Homo sapiens: one gene and its partners. The protein of the gene in region 2 interacts with the protein of the main gene of each other region in a pairwise test. Each region holds a gene or a part of one and is shown on either strand. Other genes may lie near its edges.

The links.
Region 1: the proteins of LRRC8E (region 2) and SAMD4B interact in binary tests that used the Homo sapiens proteins (3 or more experiments, as listed by UniProt).
Region 3: the proteins of LRRC8E (region 2) and TRIM3 interact in binary tests that used the Homo sapiens proteins (3 or more experiments, as listed by UniProt).

What each region holds. Positions count from the first base shown.
Region 1 is NC_000019.10:39,338,335-39,345,460, forward strand, and holds the start of SAMD4B (protein Smaug homolog 2), read left to right. Parts: upstream 1-4,086; 5' UTR 4,087-4,242; intron 4,243-5,790; exon of another isoform or gene 5,791-7,126.
Region 2 is NC_000019.10:7,884,183-7,891,509, reverse strand, and holds the start of LRRC8E (volume-regulated anion channel subunit LRRC8E), read right to left. Parts: upstream 3,001-7,327; 5' UTR 2,910-3,000; intron 1-2,909. UniProt on the Homo sapiens protein: Non-essential component of the volume-regulated anion channel (VRAC, also named VSOAC channel), an anion channel required to maintain a constant cell volume in response to extracellular or intracellular osmotic changes.
Region 3 is NC_000011.10:6,449,919-6,457,023, forward strand, and holds part of TRIM3 (tripartite motif-containing protein 3), read right to left. Parts: coding exon 6,379-7,105; intron 6,258-6,378; coding exon 6,154-6,257; intron 2,205-6,153; coding exon of another isoform or gene 1,956-2,204; exon of another isoform or gene 1,521-1,955; coding exon 1,353-1,520; intron 1,143-1,352; coding exon 974-1,142; intron 704-973; coding exon 633-703; intron 1-632.

The DNA of each region.
Region 1 (7,126 bases), about 31 Mb from region 2:
TGCCTCCAATTTCTCCTCCCAGTTTTCTCTTCTGCCTTCTCCAATCAGCCTTTCACCTGTATTCCTCTCAGCTGACATGCCCTTGTCAAGGTCACCCATGCACTCCACGGTGCTGGATCTAATGGTCAATTCTCACTCCTCCTCAGCCACATCTGACACAGCCCATCACTCCCTGTTCCCTGAAACATCGTCTTCATGACACCACACTTGCCTGGTTTTCTTTTTTTCTTTTCTTTTTTTTTTTTTTTGAGACAGGGGTCTCGCTCTGTCACCCAGGCTGGAGTACAGTGGCACCATCTCAGCTCACCGCAACCTCCGCCTCCTGGGTTCAAGCGATTCTCTCACTTCAGCCTCCCAAGTAGCTGGGATTACAGGCGTGAGCCACCACACCCGGCTAATTTTTTTTTTTTTTTCTTGAGATGGAGTGTCTCTCTGTCACCCAGGCTGGAGTGCAGTGGCACAATCTCGGCTCACTGCAACCTCCACCTCCCAGGTTCAAGCAGTTCTCCTGCCTCAGCCTCATGAGTAGCTGGGATTACAGGTGTGCGCCACCACAACCAGCTAATTTTTGTATTTCTAGTAGAGACGGGGTTTCACCATGTTGGTCAGGCTAGTCTCGAACTCCTGACCTCGTGATCAGCCCACCTCAGCTTCCCAAAGTGCTGGGATTACAGGTGTGAGCCACCGCGCCTAGCCATATTTTTGTATTTTTAGTAGAGACAGGGTTTTACCATGTTGGCCAGGCTGGTCTCAAACCCTCCCATGGGCCAGACACAGTGGCTCATGCCTGTAATCCCAGCACTTTGGGAGGCCAAGGCAGGAGAATTGCTTGAGACCAGGAGTTCAAGACCAGCCTGGGCAACATAGCAAGACCTTGTCTCTACAAAAAAATTTTAAAAGTAGCCGGGCATGGTGGCATGTGTCTGTAATCCCAGGTACCAGCTACTTGGGAGGCTGAGGTTGGGAGGATCACTTGAGCCCAGGAGTTTGAGGCTGCAGTGAGCTAGGATCACACCACTGCACTCCAGCCCAGGTGACAGAGTAAGATCCTATCTCTAAAAACCAAACAGCAGGCCAGGCGCAGTGGCTCACGCCTGTAATCCCAACACTTTGGGAGGCCGAGGCAGGCAGATCACTTGAGTCCAGGAGTTCAAGACCAGCCTGGGCAACATGGTGAAACCCCATCTCTACTAAAAATACAAAACTTAGCCAGGTTTGATGGCATACGGCTGTAGTTCCAGCTACTCCAGAGGCTGAGGCAGGAGAATCACTTGAACCCAGGAGGCAGGGGTTGCAGTGAGCCGAGGTTGCAGTGAGCCGCGATCGCACCACTACAATCCAGTCTGGGCAACAGAGTGAGACCCTGCCCCCCCCCCCCACACACACACACACACACACACACACACACACCAACAATGACTAAAATACTAAGTTATCTGTCACCACCCCTACCCCATTGCCTCTTGGACCTTGTCCTTCACTGCCCTCTTTTGCTCACTCCACTCCAGCAATGCTGGCCCCTTTGTGGTTCTGTGAATGATCCTACTACATGGCCTTTGCACTTGCTGTTTTCTCTTTCTGGAACCCACTTTCTCCTTCATTCCTTCAGATTTCTGTTTCAGTCTCACCTAATGAAAGAGGCCTTTCCCCATGTAAATTAATTCTGGCTGCATTACTCCATTCCCTTAGCTGCTTTCTTGTTATTTATTTGTTTATTTATTTAGAGACATAGTCTCGCTCTGTCACCTGGGCTAGAGTGCAATGGCAAATCTCGGCTTATTGCAACCTCCGACTCCTGGGTTCAAGTGATTCTCCTGCCTCACCCTCCTGAGTAGCTGGAACTACAGGCACGCATCACTATGCCCAGTTAATTTTTGGCATTTTTAGTAGAGACAGGGTTTTGCCACTTTGGCCAGGCTGGTCTCAAACTCCTGGCCTCAAGTGATCCACCAGCCTCAGCCTCCCAAAGTGCTGGGATTACAGGCATGAGTCACCATGCCCAGCCACTGCTTTCTTTTTCTCCTTGGTACTTATCACGAAGTTACACTGTATTTCCTTATTGTTTGTGTCCCCAAGAACTAGAATGTAAGTCTTTTTGTTTTTTTTTTGTTTTTTTTTTGAGACGGAGTTTCACTGTTGTTGCCCAGGCTGGAGTGCAATGGCACGATCTTGGCTCACTGCAACCTCCGCCACCCGGGTTCAAGCGATTCTCTTGCCTCAGCCTCCCAAGTAGCTGGGACTACAGGCATGTGCCACCACGCCCCGCTAATTTTGTATTTTTAGTAGAGATGGGATTTCACCATGTTGGTCAGGCTGGTCTCGAACACCTGCCTCGGCCTCCCAAAATGCTGGGATTACAGGTGTGAGCCACCGCGCTCATCCTATTGTTGTGTTTCTAGCACCTTAAGCAGAGCCTGGCACATATTAGATAGTCAAGAAATATTATTGAATGAATTAATGAACCAGCAGTTAATGAGCACAATAATTCTATGCAGTGTGAAGGCTGTTGCTTAAATGCAGGAGGTAGTGGATGGGGTTTGTGACATGGCCCCACCCTGGTGAAACAGCCTTTCCTCAAAGCGTCTATAATGCCACACTCTCCTGGTTTTCCTCTCTCTGGCTGCCTTTTGCAATATTCATCGACAGCGTCAATTCCTTTGCTCAAATCCTGCCTCTCTGTTTCAGGGTTCTGTTCAGTCCCTGTCTCCAGTGACCCTTCATACCCTCCCCGGGCTAGACCCCTAACTCCCACAGCCTCAATTACCATCTTTGACGATCCTTAAATCTTGGTCTCCAGCCTCAATTTCTCCCTTAAGCTCCAGACCCAGGGTTTGTGCACCTCCTGGACCTCGCTACTAGGCATCCACATTGGGCTTAGTATCTTCCCAACCTGCTTCTGGCGCCCAGTCTCCCGGCTAGAGGGGCCTGGTCCTAAACTTTTCTCCCCCTTCCACTCCATAGCCAGCCAGTGTCAGGGCCCGTTCGCTCTGCCTCCAGGGCGTCCCTCCCACCTGCACCTCCTTCCCTCCCCACAGTCCCTCCCTCGTGCAAACCCCCTCTTTCTTCCCCACCCCCTCCCCCAGCTGCCTCCCTGGACTCCCGATCCCGTTTCATTCCCTCCAATCCGCCCTCCATGTATAAGCCAGAGAGACATCTCTCCAAAACCCCAGACTCACCATGATCCTCCCCGGCTTGAAGCCCTTCACGGCTCCCTAGTGCCCTCGGGACAAGTCCAAACTCCCTCAAGTGGCCAAACAACTGGCCTCTGCTCGTTCCTCACCCCTCCCTGTCTTCAACTCGACCCTCCATCCCGACTGCCTCTCTAAGTGCCTGTAACAAGCCAGATCTCTGTCACCGAGAGCCTTCTGAACACAGGTCCCTCTGATTAGTTCACCCGGACCCAATACAGTTTGTGGAACGCACAGATCACAACCAAAGTCACAGCAACAACTCCCGTTTATTGACAGCCTCCTTGATCCTTAGCGCTTTCTGTGCATTCTCTTCCCACCCTAAAGGCTAGATCTCGCCTCGCCATTCCCATCGGAGAGAGCAAGCGGCAAGGCTGAGAACAGCGCGATGAGAAAGCCGAGCGCCCAGAAGCCCGAGTGCAGACGCCCACTGAGGACAGCCTTGGGTGAGGCGGGCCACCCAAGGGGCGGGGAAGAGGAGGCCTGGAACGCCTGAATCAGGAACTGTGACTTCGCTCGGGGCAGCTGGGGTGGACGCGCGCGAGCCTGCCCCCTGCGGGCCTGGAGGCCCAACCTCAGACTCCGCCGGGCCCGTTGCCCTGGGCAACGCCCCGCGCGCCCCGCCCCTTCCCCGCCCCCCAGCCCCAAACCCCAGGCCTGGCCGACTGCCCGTCACCCCCACGTCCGACCAATCCCGCCGAGGAGGGGGCGGGCCTCTTGGGCCCCGTTCCACCACCGTCGCTCCCCCCTCGCCGCGACCCCGCCTTACTCGGCTCACACCTCCCGCCCTTCGGGCTGCCCTCGCCGCCCGTTGGCTGGCGCGCCGTTCGTCACCCGGGCGTGAGCTAATGCCGGCGCGCGGCGGCCCCCGTCGGGGCGGGGCCAGGGGCGGTGACGCACGGCGCGGTGACGCAGCGCGACGGCGGCGGCGGCGGCGGCGGCGGTGGTCGGTGCGGGAGGAGGGAGGGGAGCTTGCGGGCCCGAGAGGGGGCGACGGCGGCGGCGGTGGCCTGAGGAGGCCCGAGCGGCGGCGGTGGCGGCGAAGGCCGAGGCGGTGAGTCTCGGGCCGGGCCGGCGCGGGGCGGCGGCGAGTCGGGGCGCGCGGGGCTCCCCTCAGGGCGACCCAGGCCGCGCGGGCGGCCCCGCCCCCTCAGGGACCCCGAACCGCGGGCGGCGGCGGCGGGCGGGTGCGGAACGCGGGCCTCGGGGGGCCGGGCCCCACGGGAGAAGCCCCGCGCCCGTCCCCAGTCTCCCTCCTGGGCCCTGGCCGAAGCTTCCCTCCGAAATCTTTCTCATGCCCTCGGGATTGCCGAGGGGCCGGGCCGGGGGCCTCTCCTCAGGACCCCCCGCACATCCCCCTCGGAGAGCCCCGGAAAGCCTGCCGATCCCCCGTGTGCGCCCTGAAAGGTCCCCGCAAAACCCACCCCTCCCGTGGAGTCGCCTCCTCGAGCCCTTCATGGGTCCCAGCAGCTTTCCTCGCAGACCCCCGCCCTTTGGCCCCGAAGCCCCCGTCCTCCTCCTGTCTCCAGAAATAGTCCTCGGAGGCCACTCCTCGTCCATTCCACAGCGTGGCTCTCATAGCTGCTCCAGGAGCCTCCCTCACGAGCCCTGCACACCTCCCCAAGGCTCCCTCCGGACCCCTGTCCATTCCAGAACTCTCCCCCGGAGCCCTGCCTCTCACAGCCCAACAGGCTCACCCGACTTCCCCCTCCCGGATCCTAAGAATTTTCCCTCCCACTTACCCCATTCCAGAAACCTCCTTGGAGATTTTCCGCTCATACCCCCTGCATTTCTGATTCCCCCTCCCAGAAGTCCTTCAGAATGCCCCCGACGGACCGTGATCATCTTCCCTGAAGATCTCCTTCCCATATCCCCAAAATAAATCTTCCTCACAGACTTTGTGAAATGCCCCCAGATCCCAAAAACTCACCTAGAAGACTCCATCCCCCTCCCCACCGTATTGCAACCATCTCTCATACACACTCCCCCTTCACGTATCCCTCTGGACCTTTCCACAGATCCCAAAAGTCTCCCCCAGAGGCCTCCTGTCTCCCCCTGGTCTCACCACCCTAAAATGCCCTAGAGATCACCCTCATGTAGCCCAGTGATCTTCACCGGGATCCCCTTCCCCACCCCCACTCATTCTAAAAATCTCCAGCAATTGCCTGAAATCTCCAGAGGACTCTCAGCATCATATTCCAAAAGCTTCTTCCAAAATCCCTTTTACATACTCCACATCTTTTCCAGTCCCCCACATCACACGCTCCAAAAATTGTTTAAGGATCCTGAAAACTTTCCTCATGGTTTTTCTCTCAGATCCCGTAGAACTCCCCTTCACTAACACCTCAGAATCCCCCCTTGCAGACCGGTTTTAGAGGAATTTTCTGAAGATCCTCCTCACAACCCCTGTAAGACCGTAAGATTCTCTTGGTGACCCCTCTGATATGCAGGTTTTCAGGACCCCCCCCCCCCACACACACACACAGCTTAGAGACCCCAGCGACCCCCTGGAGCCCTCCTGACGTATGTTCTTGAAATCCCTCCAAGACCTTCCTGACACCACCAGAACCCCTTGAATCAATACTTCTGCCTTACTAAGGGACTTTTCTAGAGATATCCCTCCCTGAACTTGCTCACACAGGTCCCCTAAATCCTCTAGAATCCCTTGAAGAAGACCCTCACACACACCTAATTTTCCCCCAAAATAACCCGAGCTCTTGCTCTGAGAAAGTCCTATAATTCTTTCTGAAAAACCCTCTCCTCTGACACTCTCTCAGAAGACCCCGCCTTCCCCATATACTCTTTTGGAGACTTTACTCAGCTTTCTCCTCAACTGAGATCTCTGAAGAGTTTTTCCTAAAAACATCCCTCTGTCATCCCACTCCAGGACCAGTCTCAGAAGACCACACCTTCCTCAGACACTTTTTAGAGAATTTTCTCCCAAATTGCCCTCCATCAGCCACCCACTCCCAGCGCTTCCTGAGACTTCCTCAGAACTTTCCCTCAGATTCCACTTCTGACATCCCCAAGAAACATTATTTAGGACCCTATCAGATTTACCCACTAACTTTAGAATTGCTATTTACACCCTCTCATTTCCCCATTCTCTTTCCTCTGAAGTCAACTCAGAGACCTTTCTCAGGGGGCCCCCTTTTCCCATTATCCCTTCAGAGGTCCCCAACATTCTCCAGACTCGTTGCCCAAGAGCCTCTATGTTTCCTTGTAAAGATTCTTGAGAGACACCTTTCCCCGCCCCCTTGAAATCCCAGTGCTCCGAGATCTTTCTTTCAGACCATTTTTCTTAGGTGCCATGCTCATAGACCCCTCTTCCCTTCAGAGATCAAGAGACCCTTAACACCCTCCTTAGAGACTTAGGATTCTCCCCATTTCCCTTTCAGAAGCCTTCTTCCTTCTCCCCTTTGAGGACCTCCTCACCAAATAATCCCTTCCCCTATAGCAGTGGTTCTCAGTGTGGTTCCTGGCCCAGCAGCAGCCACATTTGTTAGAAATACACATTCTTGAATCCCACTCAGATCTACTGAAACTGAAAACCTGGGAGCAGGGCCCAGCAATCAAGAGTTTTTAACAAACCCTCCTGGTCATTTTGATGCACACGCAAGTTTGAGAACCTGTGCCCTTTAGGAGGATTTCCTTTTCCTCACTAAAAGCCCCCTGAAAGATGCCTCAGGGTATGCCTCTGTGCCCTACTGCCCACTGCTGCTTTCCTGTTTCCTAGGAATCCCCTTTATGAAGTACCCATCCTCCAGAAAGATTTCTTACCTACCTTGAAAGGATCTTGGCTTCTCCACAAGGTTACTCCATCCTCTGAGCAGTTATTTCCGATTCTACTTTTGAATGGTTTCTTTTCAGATCTTCCTCAGTGCTTTCTCTTTCTGGCTACCCCTCCAGCCCACTACCAGCCTTTGGTGCTTCTTTAA
Region 2 (7,327 bases):
CTTCCTGTCCTTGCCACCCTGGTGTAAGCTCCACCAATAGCCATCCCAGGTGCACAATCGCAGACAAGAAGGCAGCAACACTCAGGGGACCGGGGGGCAGCCACAGGGGCTATCATTATCTGTCTCCATGACTCAAACTTGATCCTCACAAACCTGCCATTAAATTTCCACAGACATAAAATAGGCCCCCACTTTGTCTGAGCAGGGCTGGTGGGAAGGTCCAGGAACAGGGGCTCGAAGAATTGGGGCAGAGCCAGGGAAAATAAAACGATGGGACGTATACGCTCAGCTTTCTCCACCAGACACTGAATGCCTCATTTTATCCCAACCCAGGCAGCGTGGATGTCGGAGACTTTGCTTTCCAGACTCAGGGGAGAGAAATAACTTGCTCAAGCTTCTACAGTTCCAAGCGGCATTCGAAGCCTGACCCATCCAACCTCCAGGTCCTGCCTGTAGGATTGCAACTGCTCTGTTCCCTCTTGGGAGACAGCCTCTAATTAAAATGCAGCATCTTGCCAGGCACGGTGGCTCACGCCTGTAATCCCAACACTTTGGGAGGCCAAGGTAGGCAGATCATTTGAGGTCAGGAGTTTGAGACCAGGCTAGCCCAACATGGTAAAACCCCATGTCTACTAAAAATACAAAATTAGCTGGAGTGGTGGTGGGCACCTATAATCCCAGCTAATGGGGAAGCTGAAGCAGGAGAATCTCTTTTTTTTTTGAGACAGAGTCTCACTCTGTCGCCCAGGCTGGAGTGCAGTGGTGTGATCTCGGCTCACTGCAAGCTCCGCCTCCCGGGTTCACACCATTCTCCTGCTTCAGCCTCCCGAGTAGCTGGGACTACAGGCGCCCGCCACCTCGCCCGGCTAATTTTTTGTAATTTTAGTAGAGACGGGGTTTCACTGTATTAGCCAGGATGGTCTCAATCTCCTGATCTCATGATCTGCCTGCCTCGGCCTCCCAAAGAGCTGGGATTACAGGCGTGCGCCACCGTGCCCGGCTGAAGCAGGAGAATCTCTTGAACCCAGGAGGTGGAAGTTGCAGTGAGCCGTGATTGCGCCACTGCAATCCAGCCTGGGCAACAGAGCAAGACTCTATCTCAAAAAACAAACAACAACAAAAAAACCACAGCATCTTTGCCAAAAGCACCTAAGAGCGGTGTTGCATTGTGGCAGGCCAGGCTGGAAGGCTTTCCAGCCTGAGACCATGTGGCTCCCACCAGCCCTGGCTCCATCCACCCATGCCTCACCCCTCCTCCCTCCCAGGTCCTCCTCAAGCCACTTGCCTCCAAAAAATGTGGTGATGAGTTCCTGCTGGGGGAAGGGTGGGAGAGTGAGACCCTCCACACCCACAGCCCATGCTAAGAGGCAGGGAAGAAGCAAGAAACATCCAGCAGTTTTCAGCCCTAAGAGGGGTTTTGTAGAAAACAAGGCCCAACCTTTTTTTTTTTTTAGACATAGAGTCCTGACGGACACAGTGGATCACGCCTGTAATCCCAGCACTTTGAGAGGTTGAGGCAGGTGGATCACGAGGTCAAGAGATCAAGACCATCCTGGCCAACATGATGAAACCCCATCTCTAAAAATACAAAGATTAGCTGGGTATGGTGCCACATGCTTGTAGTCCCAGCTACTCAGGAGGCTGAGGCAGGAGAATCGCTTGAACCTGGGAGGTGGAGGTTGCCGTGAGCCAAGATCGTGCCACTGCGCTCCGGCCTGGCAACAGAGCAAGACTCTATCTTGAAAAAAAAAAAAAGAGAGAGAGAGAGAGATAGAGTCTTGCTCTGTCACCCAGGCTGGAGTTCAGTGGCACGATCATAGCTCATAGTAGTCTCGAACTCCTGGGCTCAAGTGATCCTCCTGCCTCAGCCTCCCCAGTAGCTGGGACCACAGGTGCGTGCTACCATGCCCAGCCAACTTTTAGATTTTTTGTAGAGATGGAGTCTCGCTATGTTGCCCAGGCTGGTCTTGAACTTCTGAGTCCAAGCAATCCTCCCACCTCAGCCTCCCAAAGTGCTGGGATTACAGGTGTGAGCCACTGTGCCTGGCCTCAATCTTTTTTTTTTTTTGAGATGGAGTGTCGCTCTGTTGCCCAGGCTGGAGTGCAGTGGCCCAATCTCAACTCACTGCAACCTCCACCTCTTGGGTCCGAGCAGTACTCAAGCCTCAGCCTCCCCAGTAGCTGGGACTACAGGGACACGCCACTAATTTTTGTATTTTTAGTAGAGATGGGGTTTCACCGTGTTAGCCAGGCTGGTCTCAAACACCTGACCTCAGGTGACCTGCCCACCTCGGCCTCCCAAAGTGCTGGGATTATAGACGTAAGGCACGGTGTCCGGCTGAGCCTCAACCATTTATGCAAGGGAGAAACTGAGGGTCTAGGGTGGGGGAGGGTGGCATCTTTGTAGCCCGTCCTGGGTCAGGCCCCAGGCCTGCGGATTCCCAGCCGAGTGGTTTTCCAAGCCGCCTCTGCCAGCAGACTTGAAGATCTGGGACATGTGTAAGTTCAAGAGCACCAGAGGTCAGGCTTGGTTGAACCCACCCCAAGTGGTAGGTTCTGGAGCTCTGAGAGTCTCCCGGGGATGAGTTGTCAATGTCTTCCCAGATGCCAAGGGGAGGGGAAAGTGGTTGAGACCCCCAAAGTCAAGTTTATCTTCAGCCTGTTTATCTTCACTCTGAGACTTGGCCGCGTCTGCCTGGCTCCCAGGACGGGCACCTCGTGGGCCAGGTTTCCCTTTGCACCGGCCGGCACCCCCACCCCAGCTCCTGGTGTGTCGGGACGGCCTGCCCCGGCCACAGGGCCGGCGCACCTGGAGCGGCTCTGCCCCTTGTCCAGACCCGGGGACTCCCAGCCCGACCCCCACCCTGCCACCTCGTGGGGTGTCCAGAGGCAAAGAGCCACCTACTCACCGTTCCGGGAGGGACGCTGGGCCCAACTCCTGGGTCTCTGGGAGCGGAGCTGCCGCGACTCCCGCAGAGTTCCCGGGCGGGCCGCGAGGGTGAGTCAGGGCAGGCGGGGACAGGAGACCCGGAGCCGCCCCGCCCCGCCCCCGGACGACTCGGCCCCGCCTCGCCGCAGGCGCGCCCAGGTCGACCCTACTCCAGGCGCCGCGCGATCAGCAGGGTTGGGGGAAGACAGCCGTCTTAGGCTGCTTTGCCCTGGTGGGCTCGGGGCTGGCGGGAGATGCAGGGGTCTTAGAACTTTGCAACTTTGCAGTCTGGCTGGACCCTGGCAGCTGGGGAAACTGAGGGAGCTGGGGACGCTGAACTCCCAAAGCCATTCTACGGCCACCTTTCTGGGAACCAGGTCTTACGGACCCTGTCGAGAAAATGTGGAGGCCGGGCTCTGTGACTCACGCCTGTAATCCAACACTTTGGGAGGCCGAGGCAGGAGGATACCTTGGGCCTAGGAGTTTGAAACCAGCCTGAGCAATATAGTGGGACCACATCTCTACAAAAAATTTTAAAACCTACAAAAACAAAATTTTAAAAATTAGCCAGGTGTGGTGGTGTGTGCCTGTAGTCCCAGCTACTCTGGAGGCCGAGGTGGAAGGATCACCTGAATCTGGGAAGTTGAGAGGCTGCAGCGAGCTACGATCATGCCACTGCACTCCAGCCTGGGCCACCAAGAAGGACCCTGTCTCCAAAAGAAAAAAAAGAAAAAGAGGAAGTGCGGAAGGGCTCCTTCTAACCCCGCAAGGCCCAGTCACCTGGCCTTAAAGCCCAGCCAAGGCACAGGTGACTGCAGTTTTCAGGTGCTGGGAGTGGAGTTGCGGGAGGAGAGGACGGGGAGGGGACGGCTTCTCCCTTCAAGCTCTGGCCATGGGCGGGAACTGGGCTGAACCAACGGAAGTTGAGTAGAGTGGGGATGCCCTCCTGTCTGTCCCTGCCCAACACTGTGGTCTGCCCTCCAGGTGGGGAGTGGGGCACAAGCAGCTCCGAAGTCCTGGGGGGCCCAGCTTCTCTGCCTCCCCACCCCCACCCTGGCCGCCCCACTTGGGAGGCCTGAGCTGGGTCTTAGATGAGCAAATCTGTGGAGGTGGACCTTGATCTGTTCTCCGTCTGAAAAACCTTGGAGGCCGGGTGCAGTGGCTCACGCCTGTAATCCCAGCTCTTTGGGAGGCTGAGGCGGGTGGATCACGAGGTCAGGAGATCGAGACCATCGTGGCTAACACAGTGAAACACAGTCTCTACAAAAATACAAAAAAATTAGCAGGGCGTGGTGGCGGGCGCCTGTAGTCCCAGCTACTCAGGAGGCTGAGGCAGGAGAATGGCGTGAACCCAGGAGGCAGAGCTTGCAGTGAGCCGAGATTGCGCCACTGCACTCCAGCCTGGGCGAAGAGTGAGACTCCATCTCAAAAAAAAAAAAAAAAAAAAAGATAAAAAAAGAAAAGAAAAGAAAAACCTTGGATGTATCTATGGCCATACCACCCTAAAAGCATCTGATCCTCGTCTCACCTCGCAAGCTAAGCAGTGTCGGACCTGGTTAGTACTTGGATGGGAGACCACCTAGGAATACCGGGTGCTGTAGGCTTGGGCTGGTCACAGTGGCTTACACCTGTAATCTAGCACTTTCGGAGGCTGAGGAGGGTGGATCACCTGAGGTCAGGCGTTTGAGACCAGCCTGGCCAACATGGTGAAACCCTGTCTCTACTAAAAATACAAAAATTAGCTGGGTGTGGTGGCTTGTGCTACTTGGGAGGCTGAGACAAGAGAATCGCTTGAGCCTGGGAGGTGGAGGTTACAGTGAACTGAGATTGCACCACCCCACTCCAGCCTGGGCGACAGAACAGGATTCCATCTCAAAACAAAACAAAACAAAACCAAACCATCCATGGAAATGTTCCTACCTGGACTTAGGATGGGAGACGGAGAGTTCTCCCTGACAGGGTAAAAGAAGCCTTGACTTGGCCGGGCGCGGTGGCTCATGCCTAGAATCTCAGCACTTTGGGAGGCCGACTCGGGTGATTCACCTGAGGTCAGGAGTTCGAGTCCAGCCTGGCCAACATGGTGAAACCCCATCTCTACTAAAAATACAAAACATTAGCTGGGTGTGGTGGCACAAGCCTGTAATCCCAGCTACTTGGGAGGCTGAGGCAGGAGAATCGCTTGAACCCAGGAGGCGGATGTTGCCGTGAGCCGAGATCGTGCCACTGCCCTCCAGCCTGGGCAACAAGAGCAAAACTCCGTCTCAAAAGAAAAAAGAAAAAAAAAAAAGCCCTGACATTGACCAGGTCTGGGCCTGCGACTGGAAACCTCTAGGGTTGGAAACTTGTAAGTCAGGGACCTTCTGGGCACCGCCACAGGGAGTCCAAAGACAAAACTTCCTTTTGGATTTAGTAGAGCTTTAAGAGCACCTGTTGTCTGTCGGCATCTGCAGCTTCCTTGCAGGACAAGACCAGCAAGGCTCTCTACTCTCTGAGAGCTTCTGTCCTAGTGGGTGGGAGAGATACACTAAGTAAACTAATAAAGGAGACCAGGTGGGGTGGCTCACGCCTTAAATCCCAGCAGTTTAGGAGGCTGACCAAGGTGGGTGGATCGCTTGAGCCCAGGAGTCTGAGATCAGCCTGAGCAACATAGTGAGATCCCATCTCTACAAAAAATAAATAAAAATGATAGAAGAATTAGTCAGGCGTAGTGGCACGCACCTGTAATCCCAGCTACTCGGGAGGCTGAGGGAGGAGAATCGATTGAACCCAGGAGGCGGAGGTTGTGGTGAGCCGAGATTGCACCACTGCACTCCAGCCTGGGCAACAGAGTGAGACTCCGTCTCAAAAATAAATAAATAAGTAAATAAAAATGAGCTGGGTGTGATGGTGTGCACCTGTGGTCCCAGCTACTTGAGAGGCTGAGACAGGAGGATCACTTGAGCCTGGGAGTTGGAGGCTACAGTGAGCCATGATTGCACCACTGCACTCCAGCCTGGGTGGCAGCTCAGAACCTGGCTTTTAAAAACAAAACAAAACAAAAGACAAACGGAAGAACAAGGTAATGCCAGTTTGTGACAAATGTTGTATATATAACAAAGCAAGGTGAAGCGGTAGCAAGGGACAAGGGGTTCCTTGAAGACCGCTTTGAGGAAGGGACCTGTGAGAAAGGTTGTCTCTCCTTTGGAGTGACTCTTCCTGTCTTCCTTCCTTCCTTCCTTCCTTCTTTCCTTCCTTCCTTTCTTCTTTCTTTCCTTCTTTGTTTCATGGAGTTTTGCTGTTGTTGCCCAGGCCGGAGTGCAATGGCGTGATCGCTGCTCACCGCAACCTCCGCCTCCGGGGTTCAAGCAATTCCCAGCCTCAGCCTCCCGAGTAGCTGGGATTACAGGCATGCGCCACCACTCGGCTAATTTTGTATTTTTGGTAGAGATGGAGTTTCTCCACGTTGGTCAGGCTGGTCTCGAACTCCCGACCTCAGGTGATCTGCCTGTCTCGGCCTCCCAAAGTGCTGGGATTACAGGCGTGAGCCATCGCACCTGGCCTTCTTTTTCTTTCTTTATTTTTTTGAGATGGAGTCCTTGCCCAGGCTGCAGTGCAATGGCACGATCTGGGCTCACTGCAACCTTCGCCTCCTGGGTTCAAGCAATTTTCCTAACTCAGCCTCCAGAGTGGCTGGGATTACAGGCGCCCACCACTGTGCCTGGCTAATTTTTGTATTTTTAGTAGAGACAGGGTTTTGCCATGCTGGCCAGGCTGGTGTTGAACTCCTGCCTCAGCCTCCCAAAGTGTTGTGATTACAGGTGTGAGTCACTGCACTAGGCCTTCGCCTTCGCCTTCTCCTCCTCCTCCTCCCCCTCCCCCTCCCCCTCCTCCCCTCCCCCTCCCCATCTTCCTCCTCCCTCTCCTCCCCCCTCCTCCTCTCCCCCTCCCCATCTTCCTCCTCCCTCTCCTCCCCCTTCCTCCCCTCCCCCTCCCCATCTTCCTCCTCCCTCTCCTCCCCCTCCCCCTCCCATCTTCCTCCTCCCCCTCCTCCCCCTCCCCCTCCTCCTCCCTCTCCTCCTCCTTGCCTTCCTTCTCCTCCCCCTCCTCCTCCCCCTCCTCTCTCCTTCCTTCCTTCCTTCCTTTCTTTTCTTTCTTTCCTTTCCTTTTTCTTTGCCCCTCCTCCTCCTCCCTCTTTCCCCTCCTTCTCCTCCTCCACTTTCTGTTCTCCTCCTCCTTCTTCTCCTTCTCCTTTCCTCCTCCTCCTTCTTCATTCTTCTTTTTTTTCTCCCTCTGTTGCCCAGGCTGGCATGCAGTGGCATGATCCTAGCTCACTGCAGCCTTGAACTCCTGGGCTCAGGTGATCCTCCTGCCTCACCCTCCCTCCCAAGTAGCTAGGTCCACAGGCATGCACCACCACAT
Region 3 (7,105 bases), on a different chromosome or scaffold from region 2:
CAGCCTGAGTGATCTAAGACACACAGGACTGCATCACTCCCCTGCCTGCAATCCTGTGACTCCCCATAGCTCTTGGGAGGAGAGCAAGCCCCTTAAGGGGGCACACAAGCCTCACTCTCAGCTTTCACGGTCCCCTCCTCAAGCTGAGTCTGAACTACTTGTGATTTCTCGAACACACTATTAAGGTTCCCACCTTGCATTCTTGGCTCTTCCTGTGTCTTTTGTCTCAAACACTCTCGTCCTCCTCTGCCTTCCATTTAATTCCCACTTGTGCTTGAGGTCCTCCTCATATAGTCTTTCCTGAATCATACACTTCTGTATCCCTTCCCACAGTTCCCTGCACCTTCCTATCACAGAATCTATTACATCATATTGTAATTTTTTGGTTACCTTTTTCTCTTCCCTACTAGACTATAATCAAGAAGACACAGAATACATTTGCTTTGTGCATCACTGTATCTCCAGCTTCTAGCATACTGCCTGGGACAAAGCAGCCATGCATAAATGTGTAAATGTGTATTGTTTGAGTGAATGATCTCAAAGGGGAAAAGGAGGAGGTAAAATAGAGAGGAGTCTTGTGGAAGAGGAAAGGATGTTGGGACAGTGGTCACGGAGGGAGGGAAGACACTGACCTTCACTGAATGGTTATGGAAGTCCGTTACTACAATTTCATTCTTGTTGTTCACAGCCACAAAATGGGGCCCTGAAAATACAAAGTGGTCTTCAGGGCAGTAAGCTGGGATGCTGAGTGGGATGGGGAAGAGTATCTGGGAAGATAAAAGCTAGGGTGTTAGGAGAGGGGTGGGGTCTCCAGGACTGAGACAAATTATTTCTGAGATGATAGGGCTAACGTAAGGGAAGTGGGATCTCCAGAGCCAAGATATAGGAGGAGAGGGCCTTTACAGCTGGGGTATCTAGGGGAGTTCTCTGGAACAGGGGTATCAGCATAGATCTTGGAGCTGTCCCCCTATACCTGCAAAGTGGCGGTCAGTGGCCCCACGGCCCCCAAAACGGCCAACCAGTTTGCCATTGGGCTGGAAGGTAAAGACGCAGCAAGACTTGTTGTCGACCACAATGATATGTCCATTCCGGTCTACGGCCACTCCCTTGGGGCCCATGAGGCGGCCAGCTCCAATCTTGGTCTGGAGGAAGAGAATATCCATAAGAGGCTTTATTCTGACAGTGGGGAAAGTAGTCCTAACCCAGTACCAAAGCAGAATCTTGGGCTGGGGAAAGAACAGGGAGTAGGAGGAGGTAGGATTGGATCAGTCCAGACCCTGACCACCAAGAGGCACTAGACTGGTCAGTTCAGCTGGACACCAGGGTAAGTAAAGTGACAGCAGGCCTCTCACCTTGAACTTGCCCTCAGGGGAGAAGATGCTGACCCAACGGTTGTCATAGTCTGCCACAATTATGTCTCCATTGGTGTCCACTGCCACACCTGTGGGGCGCTGCAGCTGCCCAGGTGAGCGTCCTCGGACCCCAAAACGGAACTTGAACTGGCCCTCATTGGAGAAAACCTGGAGCAGAGGAGCAAGGGGAGGGAGCAGGTAGGAGGGGAGACACTGTGGGCACAGACAGAAGGGAGTAGGATCCTGAGGGAGGAGACCCCCCCACCACCATTTATTCAGTCATTCAACAAGCACTTACTGACAAAATCAAACATGGCAGCAGGTCTGGGGCAATGCAACAGAGATATGAATGGGATTGTGAGAACATGAAGGGATGAAGGGGAATGGTGAGAAAAGGCTCCAAGAGAAGAAGATGTCTGAACAAATAGCCTAATGAGGATGCCACATAAACCAAATTCGGCCAGGAAAGGAAGAGGAAAGGCATTCAAGCAGAGTGAACAGATTGTAAAAGGCACAAAGTCCAGTATGGGCACCACTTGAGGACTTGTCCAGTGTGGCTGGACTGCAGGGAGCACCCAGGTGAACAAAAGAAGGAATTATGTTTTATCCTGGGTGTAATGAGGAGTTTCTTAACATTTCTAGGCATAGCAGTGACAAGATCAATTTTGCTTTTAAGAAAGAACATTCTGGCTGTAGGGAGAAGTCAAGACTACAAGCTAGCTGCCCAGTCAGAGGCTGTTGCAGTATTCCAGTTGAGAAATGATGATGGCTTGGACCAAGGAAATTGGCTGGAGGGACGCAGATGGACTCAAGACATATGTAGGAGGTAGGCTCATGAGACTTAGTAGCAGACTGGAATGGGGTAGGTGAGAGAGGAGAAAGTATACAAGAATTAGTCCATTCAGGCTATGGGGCTGACAAGGAAACCTTCCTCCTACACAGAGTGAACCTTTCAACCTCTCCCTTCTCCAACCTCCTCTAATTTAGCTGCCCAATATGCTCAGGTCTCCCCATCCCAAAAGCACCTCCTTTAATCCTCCTTCCCACTTTAGCTAAGCTTTCTGGCTTTTCCTTCATAGTCAAAACATTACTCACTACATAAGTCTCATACACTCTGCTTTGTTATAGGCTCTGGGGACACAAGATGAACGAGAGCCAGGAGCAGCCTTGGAGAACTCAAGTTCTGGGCATTGGCCTTGCTCTTGGATTCAAATCTGTGCCTTCCTTAATGGACTGGTCTCCCCGCCCCGGCCCCACCCCAACTCCATCTCTTAGTCCTGCAGGGCTGTTTAAACTGGTCCCACCAACAGGCATCACTTTCTTCTAATGTGGACCTTCTACTAAGCTCTTCTCTGGCTGACCAGCACAGCTCTTGGGTTCTGCAGTGGTCCCCTGTGGCAGGACAGCACTCATCAGTATGAGAAGGGAGATACCATGAGCTCCACGAGCTAAATAGTAGAAGTGAGGGGGCACTAAAAGGTACAGTTTAGCGGTGAGGTAATGCCCCTCCAGTTTGAGCAGCTCAGGTTCTGGCTCAATACTGATGAGGCTTTGGGATGTCTTGTTCTTCCAGTCCCAGCCTATCCCACCCCTGACACCTGGCCAACTCTTACTCATCTTTCCATTCTTAGAATTTCCAGGTCACTTTTTCAGAGAAGACTAATGACCAAGTACCACCCTCCGCCCTACCAAATCAATATGCACATATAAACTTAGGTCACCAGGATATATGCTTTACAGCTCTCTTCATAACAATTATCACTTTGCAGCTAAATAACTGTTAAATATCGGTGTCCCCTTCTAAGGATGTAAGCCTCGCATGGCATAAGGACTGCATCTGTTTTGTTTGCTGCTGCACTTGCAGCACTGATATGGCATTTGGCACATAGTAGGCATTCAACAAATGAATGAACTCCCCAGCTCAATCTCAGACCTGAACTGGACATCTCCACTTGAATGCCGCATAGCTATCTCAAACATCTGCAAAAGTGAATTCATCAACTTAAACCTGGGCCTGCTCCTGAATGGCAACACCATCTACCCAGTCCACAAAGTCCTGCCATTCTTGACATTTGACGATTTAGCAAAATCTGCCATTCTTGCTTCCTTAATATCTCTAGAATCTGCTGGTGTCCTAGTTTGGTCCTTAACATCTCTCTCCTATACCATGGTATCTGAAAGTAGATCCCTGACTTCAGGGATCTCACAGTCTAGTGGGGGAGAAAGACTTAAACCAAAATAAAACAAAACAAAACCAGACAAAAACAAAAACAAACCAGTGATTCCAGTAAAGTATGAAAAGTACTATAGCAAAAGGCTGAGGGAACTGAGAAGAATGTGATTTAACATTCTGCCTAAGGGAATGAGGGAGTTTTCACAGAAGAGCTGATAAAACTGGAAGCTTAGACAATTACACAAGGACATAATATATACAAATCAAATTATTAATTCAGAATCACAAAATGTTTTTTGTCTTCTGTCAACTGATGCTGGTTCCACTCAGTGAGGTCTGCCTCATCCTCCACCATAGAAGTGTCCAAAAGAGAAAACGGTCATGTCGTGAGGACCCCAATCCCCATGTACTGAGAGGAGGAGGGGGATCAGACCTCATCAGGGAGCCCAGCCCATGCCAGCCCTAAGGACTCCAGAGTAAGAGAAGCAGAAATTCAACTTAGAAATCTGAGCCAGGCTCCTAGCAGTGGCGACATAGAGGGCAGGTGGAAGTAGAAGCAAGAGGAGGACTGCTATAGAAGTAGCAGGTGTTTGGAAGAGAGTGGAGCTATACCAGGTGTTCCCTCTCAATTCCCCACTCTGAAACAATGGGGAGGCCAGGTGCAGTGGCTCATGCCTGTAATCCCAGCACTTTCAGAGGCCAAGGCAGGAGGATAGCTTGAGCCTAGGAGTTCCAGACCAGCCCAAACAATATAGTGAAACCCCGTCTTTACTAAAAATAAAAATAAAATAAAATAAATTAGCCAGGTATAGTGGCATGCGCCTGTAGTCCCAGCTACTCGGGAGGCTGAAGTAGGAGGATTGCTTGAGCACAGGAGGTCAAGGCTGCAGTGAGCTGTGATCATAGCACTGTACTCCAGCCTGGACAACAGAGACCCTGTCTCAAAAAAAAAAAAAAAAACTATGAGGAAGTTCAGCCCCCTCACCAGGACAGACAAAGTGGCACTTGTTTTTCTGTGCATGTGAGCAGTGAGCACACCTGTGTGTGTGCACAACAGAGAAGGGGTCCCAAATCTCAACTTTTATGCCAGGAAGCATTCCCAGCCTAGGGAGTTGGAAAGGAGCTGGAAGGTGTAACTGAGTAGGGAACTGAGCACCACCTCATTACTCCCCCGCAATCCCCTCCTCACTATCCAGGCTGGGCCCAAATGCCTTCCTGTGCTGCACAGGGCCTCTCCATTCCTCTGCTCTTAGAAATAGGGTAGGAGTAAAGGACGACTGGACAGAACTGGGAATATGGCCACAGAAGAGTCCCTTGCACTTTTAGACTGTTAGGTGAAAAGCAGGGGTCAGAGAGTAGCCGTCACTGAGGGAAAGGACCTTAGCAGAGCTGGATCGATGACATGAGTACTCAAGCAGGGTCAGGAAGTTTAAACGTATAGGTGTTTAGAAGTAAGGATCTTCAGCGAAAAGTTTTGCTACCCAGTAAAATGTTTCGAAGAAGTAAAGTGCATGGTAGTTAGAAACAATCCCCTATAGGATAAAATCAAAATTCCACACTCCATCTCCAAAACCAATTACAATCTGACCTCAGCTACCCCTGGCTTCTAATAGTAATCTACCTCCAGGCCTGCTGGGCTCCTTCCAGTTCCCTGAACCACCTCCTCCAGCACTTTCCCACCTGCTTGCCTTTGTTTACAGCCTCCACCTGGACGATGATATTTTTAACAATAGCTAACATCAGAAGTTTCACTAGATGTCAAGTATAGTACATCATTTAACACTCCCCGCAACCCTATCAGATATACTTTTCCTAATTTTACACATGAGTTAACTGAAGCTCAAAGAGGTCATGTGACTTGTTAGTATGTGACAGAGCTAGGATTCAAGCTCAGGTGTCTGGTTTCAGAGCCTGAGCTTTTAACTGCTCTGCTGTGTCAACTACCCTGGTGCCCACTGTACTAGGCTCTGAGCTTTTACTACAAGAAACAGAGGGAAAAAAAGGCACATTTCCTGGCTTTGAAAAGGAGCTCACAGTGCAGCAGAAACCATGTTCATTCAGTGCGGTTGATGCCATAATCAGGTGTATGAGGTTATGGGAGAGGCAGTGGGAGGACCACCTGCTACAACTTCTAGCCACTGAAAGATACCCCCTTTGGCCAAGATACCCCTATGCAACTGTCTAGCCAACCTGATAACTGCAGAGACTCCAGACAGACTACATACATTCAGGAGCCAGGCATGCATGTTGGAAGACACGGAGGGCAGGCCACCAGGAGAAAAAGGGAGAAAGTAAGAGGCTCAAGGAGAGGCAGAAGGAAAGGAGGAATGAGCCAGATCTTTGCAGTCCAGGAGCTGACCTGCCCTAAGCCATGGCCTACAAAGTAGAGGCTACAAGCATAGTAAACTCTGGTTTCTGACTGAAGGTGCTGGTTACAGTTGTGGCCTATGGGAATGGGGTGGCTGGTGGGTGCGTAAGGGGTGATCCTTTGATTCACTGCTCTTAAGGAACGGTACTATCTGTAGGGTTCCATCTTCCAGGAGGTGACCTGTACATTCTATCTTTTCAGTAGCCTGTAGCTTGAAAACTCTTATTTTGGTGGTGGAGGAGAGCGGTAAAGGTGCTTACCTGAATACACTGGTTGTTGCTGTCTGCTACCACGATGCGGCCGCTGCTGGCTGCGGACACACCTTGTAAATTGGTGAATTCACCTTTCTCCCTTCCACGACTGCCTGTGGGAAGGGACAGGAGGGAAAACAAAATAATTCATTCAGAGGTCATCTTGAACCTCCCTTCCCTCCCCACCCACTACCTGAGCCTGGCCCATCTGGCTCTGCCCTCGGCTGTCTGTACCAACACGGAAGACGAGCTCATCCTCAATTGGGTTGTCCTTTCGTTTGCCGCCTGTGCTGTACATGGAGCTGGGCCTACGCACTGCCTTCTGGCGCACATGGCTGCCGGGGCCGCCAGGGGACTTGACACGGCGCTTCACATCGTCCGGGGAAGGTGGCAGGTCCCCCGGACGCAGGGCACGCACGCGGAAGGGGCTGCCGCGCACTGGCTGTCCGTAGAGCAGCACCGAGAGGAGCAGCTCGCCTTCCGTGCGCGCTGTGTACACTAGCTCATATGTGCCATTCTTGTGGTCCACCACTGGCACCGGAAGGCGCGTGCCGTCCGGGCCGGTGATCTCTGCACGCAGCTCAGCGCTGCCTGTGCGCACCAACCGCCCGTCCTTGTCTTTGGTAGTGACAGTGAGCGAGGCAGGCTGGCCCACTAGCGCCTGGCGCAGGCCCTCTCCCGTGGCCACCGTTTCGTGTGCAGTGGCGCTCGTGGTGAGCAGTGCGCCCAGATTGAGCACCGATCGCCGCAGACCGTCCACCTCAAGGACCAGTTCCAGCTGTGCATTCTCATGTGGCCGCTCCGGGAAGGCCTGTGCCGCCAATGCAGCCAGCCGCTCTCGCATGTGCTTGCGCACCAGCAACACCTCCGGGGCCGAGCCCAGGCGCAGTGCCTGCTCTGCAAAGCTGCAGCTACTGCCGATGTGTTCCTGACCCTGGCGCAGTGTGTCCAGCTGGCTTTG